Linked DNA regions of Homo sapiens. The protein of the gene in region 2 purifies or fractionates together with the protein of the main gene of each other region. This does not show direct contact. Each region holds a gene or a part of one and is shown on either strand. Other genes may lie near its edges.

Region 1 (4,007 bases), on a different chromosome or scaffold from region 2:
CCTGGACTCCTGGGTCTGAGGGAGGAGGTGCTGGGGCCTGGATTCCTGGGTCTGAGGGAGGAGGGGCTGGGGCCTGGACTCCTGGGTCTGAGGGAGGAGGGGCTGGGCCTGGACTCCTGGGTCTGAGGGAGGAGGTGCTGGGGCCCGGATTCCTGGGTCTGAGGGAGGAGGGGCTGGGGCCCGGATTCCTGGGTCTGAGGGAGGAGGGGCTGGGGGTCCAGACTCCTGGGTCTGAGGGAGGAGGGGCTGGCGGCCTGGACTCCTGGGTCTGAGGGAGGAGAGGCTGGGGGTCCAGACTCCTGGGTCTGAGGGAGGAGGGGCTGGGGGCCTGGACTCCTGGGTCTGAGGGAGGAGGGGCTGGGCCTGGACTCCTGGGTCTGAGGGAGGAGGTGCTGGGGCCTGGATTCCTGGGTCTGAGGGAGGAGGGGCTGGGGCCTGGACTCCTGGGTCTGAGGGAGGAGGGGCTGGGGGTCCAGATTCCTGGGTCTGAGGGAGGAGGGGCTGGGGGCCTGGACTCCTGGGTCTGAGGGAGGAGAGGCTGGGGGTCCAGACTCCTGGGTCTGAGGGAGGAGGGGCTGGGGGCCTGGACTCCTGGGTCTGAGGGAGGAGGGGCTGGGCCTGGACTCCTGGGTCTGAGGGAGGAGGTGCTGGGGCCTGGATTCCTGGGTCTGAGGGAGGAGGGGCTGGGGCCTGGACTCCTGGGTCTGAGGGAGGAGGGGCTGGGGGTCCAGACTCCTGGGTCTGAGGGAGGAGGGGCTGGGGGCCTGGACTCCTGGGTCTGAGGGAGGAGAGGCTGGGGGTCCAGACTCCTGGGTCTGAGGGAGGAGGGGCTGGGGGCCTGGACTCCTGGGTCTGAGGGAGGAGGGGCTGGGGTCCTGCAGTCCTCGGTCTCAGCAGGAAGGGACCAGAAGTCGACTTCTAGATCATTTCTCTCCCTAGGTGTTCCAGGCTGGTGATGTGCCTTCGGAACGCCCATTCTATCCCCCAACCTTGGTCTCCAACCTGCCCCCAGCCTCCCCATGTGCCCAGGTGGAGGTGAGACCCTTAAGGCTGCAGAGCTCCTACCCACCGCCAGCCAAGGGCAGCAGCTCTGTGCCTGGGGAAGCCCTTGGGGTAACCATGTGACCTGGGCGTGGGGGCTGCTGCCTGCTCTAGGCTCCTTCCCTGGTGGGTGGGCCCTGGAGGGCTGAGCCTCCCGGTCACCCCTTGCAGGTGCCGTGGCCTGTGGTCGTGGCCTCCCCCTTCCGCACAGCCAAGGAGGCACTGTTGGTGGCCAACGGGACGCCCCGCGGGGGCAGCGCCAGTGTGTGGAGCGAGAGGCTGGGGCAGGCGCTGGAGCTGGGCTATGGGTCAGTCTGCGTGGCCCGGGCGCTCACTCCTCTCCTCATTCTTCCATCTTCATCTCCCTTCTCCCTGGGTCGCTCCCCGCGCCTTTAACTCACCCCTCTCCCGGCCTGCCACCGTCTGTTTTCCTCTGTTGGACACCTTCATCTTCCCCACAGGCTCCAGGTGGGCACTGTCTGGATCAACGCCCACGGCCTCAGAGACCCTTCGGTGCCCACAGGCGGCTGCAAGGAGAGTGGGTGTTCCTGGCACGGGGGCCCAGACGTGAGTACATCCCCTCCCCGTCACCAGCCCCCCCGCCGCCCCATGCCCTTGACACTCGCATCCGGCCTCGCGTGCCCCTTGCATCCTCTTGACACCGTCCCTCTCACAGGGGCTGTATGAGTATCTGCGGCCCTCAGGGACCCCTGCCCGGCTGTCCTGCCTCTCCAAGAACCTGAACTATGACACCTTTGGCCTCGCTGTTCCCTCAACCCTGCCGGCTGGGCCTGAAATAGGGCCCAGGTGAGTCGTTGGGGGCCAGTGGTCTGGGAGTGTGAACGGGGAGAGGGGAATTGATGCCTGTTTCCCCGTGGACTGGAGGGCTGGCGCGAGGTCCATCCAAACCATCTCTTAGTCCTGCTGAGTACCACGTTGTGGCCTCACACTTTCCCTACCCCAGGCCTGCCGAGACTCTCAGCTCTGCCCCATGAATGTCTGTACTCTCCCAGAAACTCATGGGTCTAGGAGCTTGGGGTCCCCCAGAGGTTCACTGGAGCAGAAGCTTGGGGTCCCTCAGAGGCTCATGGGAGCAGGAGCTTGGGGTCCCCCAGAGGCTCATGGGAGCAGAAACTTGGGGTCCTCCAGAGGCTCATGGGAGCAGGAGTTTGAGGTCCCCCCAGAGACTCAAGGGAGCAGTTTAGGGTCTACCAGAGGCTCATGGGAGCAGGAGCTTAGGGTCCCCCAGAGGCTCATGGAGCAGGAACTTAGGGTCCTCCAGAGGCTCATGGGAGCAGAAGCTTTGGGTCCTCCGGGGCTCATGGGAACAGGAATTTGGGGTGCCCCACAGGCTTATGAGAGCAGTTTAGGGTCTGCCAGAGGCTCATGGGAGTAGGAGTTTAGGGTCCCCCAGAGGCTCATGGGAGCAGGAGTTTAGGGTACCCAGAGGCTAGTGGGAACAGGGGTTTGGGGTCCCCCAGAGGCTCATGGGAGCAGAAACTTGAGTCATCCAGAGGCTCATGGGAGCAGGAATTTGGGGTTCCCCAGAGGCTCATGGGAGCAGTTTAAGGTCCCCCAGAGGCTCATGGGAGCTGGAGTTTAGGGTCCCCCAGTGAATCATGGGAGCAGGAGTTTTAGGGTCCCCCAGAGGCTCATGGGAACAGGGGTTTGGGGTGCCCCAGAGGCTCACGGGAGCCAAGGCAGTCTTCCCAGTGCGGTAGAGCATAGGGTCTGAGCAGATTGAGGCCCCAGGACTCCTCCTCATGTCCCACCCTACTCCAGCCCAGCACCCCCCTATGGGCTCTTCGTTGGGGGCCGTTTCCAGGCTCCTGGGGCCCGAAGCTCCAGGCCCATCCGGGATTCGTCTGGCAACCTCCATGGCTACGTGGCTGAGGGTGGAGCCAAGGACATCCGAGGTGCTGTGGAGGCCGCTCACCAGGCTTTCCCTGGGTAAGGGGTCACACGGGAAAGCCCAAGGGTCATGGTGTGGCAGAGAGGGGAGCCTGCCCACAGCAATTGGTGGACTGGGAGGCTGGGCCCCCAGGGTAGGGGCTGTGGACAGAGGTGGGGTGTCAGGAGAGCCAAGACCAGGATGCCAACCCCCACTGTGCGCTGTCTGCCCACAGCTGGGCGGGCCAGTCCCCAGGAGCCCGGGCAGCCCTGCTGTGGGCCCTGGCGGCTGCACTGGAGCGCCGGAAGTCTACCCTGGCCTCGAGGCTGGAGAGGCAGGGAGCGGAGCTCAAGGCTGCGGAGGCGGAGGTGGAGCTGAGCGCAAGACGACTTCGGGCGTGGGGGGCCCGGGTGCAGGCCCAAGGCCACACCCTGCAGGTGAAGGGTCTGTGGGCACCTGGGCCAGCTGGGCAGGCGGGGTGGGGCTCAGACCAGAGGCTGTGAGATAACCCAGGCTTGGAATTCGGGCCCAGCCCCACCGCCTTCCACGGCAGGATCATCAGCAAGTGGCTTCACCTCTCCCTACCTCAGTTCCCTCATCTGTACAGTGAGTGGGCACACAACCCGCCTCGTAGAGTAGCGTTCGCCAGATGATGGATAGCGACCCATTCCTGGACCCTAAAATCAATTTAGTGGGCTGTTAGGCGGTTCTCACATTGCTGTAAAGAAACACCTGGGGGCGCAGTGGCTCACGCCTGTAATCCCAGTACTTCGCGAGGCTGAGGCAGGCGGATCACGAGGTCAGGAGATCGAGACCAGCCTGGGCAACACGGTGAAACCTGGTCTCTACTAAAAATACAAAAAATTAGCTGGGTACGGTGGTGGGCACCTATAGTCCCAGCTACTTAGGAGGCTGAGGCAGGAAAATTGCTTGAACCCAGGAGGCAGTGGTTGCAGTGAGCCGAGATCGTGCCACTGCACTCCAGCCTGAGTGACAGAGTGAGACCTTGTGTCACAAAAAAAAACAAAAAACAAAAAATACCTGGCCAGACATGGTGGCTCACGCCTGTAATCCT
Region 2 (2,563 bases):
TTTTAGGAGATGCTGGCTTTGAGCTTGGTCTTCACAGATTCTTGTCAGATATGGACATGCAGAGACCCTAGGGGGCCAAGGATGGAAAACTTGGTTATGTTCCTTATCTAAGATGCAGGAGCAATGAAAGTAGTTGGCATTGCTAGGGTAGTTCAAGCTTGCTCCATCTTTCCATACAATTCAGGCAGAGAGTAGCTTTTTTTTTTCTTTAAAACCAGCTTCTACATTAAGGACACAAGAGACCAGCTCTTAATATTCACCCCATCTTGGCTCTAGGATCCAACTCTGTACCTACGATAAGGTCACCGTGGCAGTTGAAGCCTGCTGCCCCGATACTTGGGGGAAGAAATGGTTTAAACCACATTTTCCTAACCACCTGATTTTTTATGTTAGGGATGGGTGTGTGGGAACAGTCAAAAAGGAAAGAAAAGGAGTAGAAAGCTGTTGCACTGTTAAAATGGCAGATGTTATCATTGTTTCAAATTAATGTGCAAGGCCCATTCCAATAGTTTGACTTTATTAAATCAATAGAACGGGATCTCAGTGGTTAAGCCGTCTTAACAGGGCCAGGTCTCTTGAGGTAGTTTTTGGGCCATCAGTTAATTACATCGACTTTCCAGGAAACAGACTATGGAGAATGAGAGGAATCAGACTGCCTGTCACACACCTCTCATGGAACCCCCTAGTGACACCTATAAGGACGTTACAGATCTAGTTCCAGACTTTACAGATCTAGTTCTATTTTCTCAAGTTACAGATGGGGAAACTGAGGCCCCAGCAGGGGGAGGGGATGTATCTAAGTCACTAGTGAGTTGGCGGCAGTCAGGTCTCTTGATTCTTTTCCCCATACTCTCAGCCCAACTTCTCAGTGGAGAGGGGCTGGCAGGCCTGCTCTCTGGATAGAATGTAGCAAAAGGCCCGTGGTCAAACTGATACGGGGTGGGGAAGGTTGGTGGGCTCTCAGCCATCAGCCATTCTCATCTTACACGTGAAAAACTCAGCTGAGAGAAGGGAAGTGACTTCCCCCCTCAGGGTAACACCCAGGACTGGAGCTTGGATCTCCTGCTTCTCAGCCTCCTAGAAGCTTCCACAATGGAATACAAAAGGAAAGGTATATGGCGGCATGGCCAGTCTGGAGAAAGGGATCAAGTTAATGACTTTAAATACAAATAATCTGAACAAATGACTAGATAAAAATTGATTTCCCTAACATGATCTCACCCTCCATGAGCTGTGCTGTTTCTGGAGAGAGCAGTCCAGGAAAGGGGTGTAGGAAAATGCAGTGTTAGAACGAACACCAAGGCTGCAAATGGGGGCAGGGGTGGGCTGGGGGCATTTAGACAGTCTGCACTGGGGTCAGTAAATCCATGACTCCATCTTTGGTGAGGAAGGCCACCTCACCAGTGTTCTGACACCAAACCTCAAAATGTGCAGGGTCCTCCAGGGCCCTCTTGCCAGCGATTATCACAAAGGGGTAGCCAAACTTGTTGGCATCTTTCAGTCTGTTTCCGATGGTCAGATGGGTCCTGTCGTCCAGGAGCACCTCCCCGTGAAGCTGAGGCACTGCCTCTGTGATGTGGTCGTACAGCTGCCCTATGAGCTCGGAGGCCGCCTGCTCCTTACTGCCCTTCTTAGGGGGGATGAGGCAGGCTTGGTAAGGGGCCAGTAGGCTGGGCCAGCGGACACAGTCTTCTGTAGAGAGGACTTCAATGGCAGCAGCCAAGATCCGTGTCACACCCAAGCCATAGCACCCCATTTCAGCCAGGGTTGGTTTGCCACAGACATTGGTAAACTGGGCATTGAAAATGGATGAGTACTTGGTACCCAGGTAAAATGTGTGCCCCACCTCAATGCCTTTGGTTTTAGTCAATGGGCCCTGGCAAGCAGGGCAGTTCATTTGTGACAAGTCTAGTGTCTCCATGTTGGCTGAGAAGCTGCAGCGGGGACAGATGGCAAGCCGGTCCTCTCCAATATCCACTGGGAGCTGGAACTCATGAGACACTGTGCCCCCGATGGTGCCCACATCGGCCTGGACCTTGACAAATGGCAGCCCTAGCTTGTTGAACAGGCTGCAGTAGGCATCACACACCAGGCTGTAGGTCTGCTGGGCAGCCTCTGGGGAGGAGTCAAAGGTGTACATATCCTTCATGTAAAACTCTCGGCCACGGAGAAGACCAAAGCGGGGCCTGGGCTCATCCCGAAACTTCCTTGTCACTTGGTACAGCAGGAAGGGAAGCTGCTTGTAGGACAGTTTCTTCTGGGAGGCAATTAAGGCCGTAATGGCTTCCTCGTGAGTTGGTCCTAAGCAGTATTCCTTGCCATGCCTGTCTCTAAGTCTTAGCAGCTCTTTGCCCATCAAGTCCCACCGGTTGGTGGCTTGCCAGAGCTCTGCCGGGCTGAGGCTGGGCATGTTGACTTTCTGGCCCCCGATGGCCTGCATCTCCTGGTCTATCACTCGCACGAGCTTCTCCATGGCACGGACGGTATATGGCAGGAGGTGGTAACAGCCGGGGCTTGCTGGGTAGATCAGGCCCACCTGCAGCATCAGCCGCTGGCTCTTACA

The links.
Region 1: the proteins of PARS2 (region 2) and ALDH16A1 fractionate together in Homo sapiens (co-fractionation; one large-scale study listed by BioGRID). This does not show direct contact.

Annotation. Positions count from the first base shown.
Region 1 is NC_000019.10:49,462,915-49,466,921, forward strand, and holds part of ALDH16A1 (aldehyde dehydrogenase family 16 member A1), read left to right. Parts: intron 1-939; coding exon 940-1,035; intron 1,036-1,212; coding exon 1,213-1,349; intron 1,350-1,502; coding exon 1,503-1,608; intron 1,609-1,717; coding exon 1,718-1,848; intron 1,849-2,823; coding exon 2,824-2,991; intron 2,992-3,167; coding exon 3,168-3,369; intron 3,370-4,007.
Region 2 is NC_000001.11:54,756,398-54,758,960, forward strand, and holds the end of PARS2 (probable proline--tRNA ligase, mitochondrial precursor), read right to left. Parts: coding exon 1,337-2,563; 3' UTR 501-1,336; downstream 1-500. UniProt on the Homo sapiens protein: Mitochondrial aminoacyl-tRNA synthetase that catalyzes the specific attachment of the proline amino acid (aa) to the homologous transfer RNA (tRNA), further participating in protein synthesis.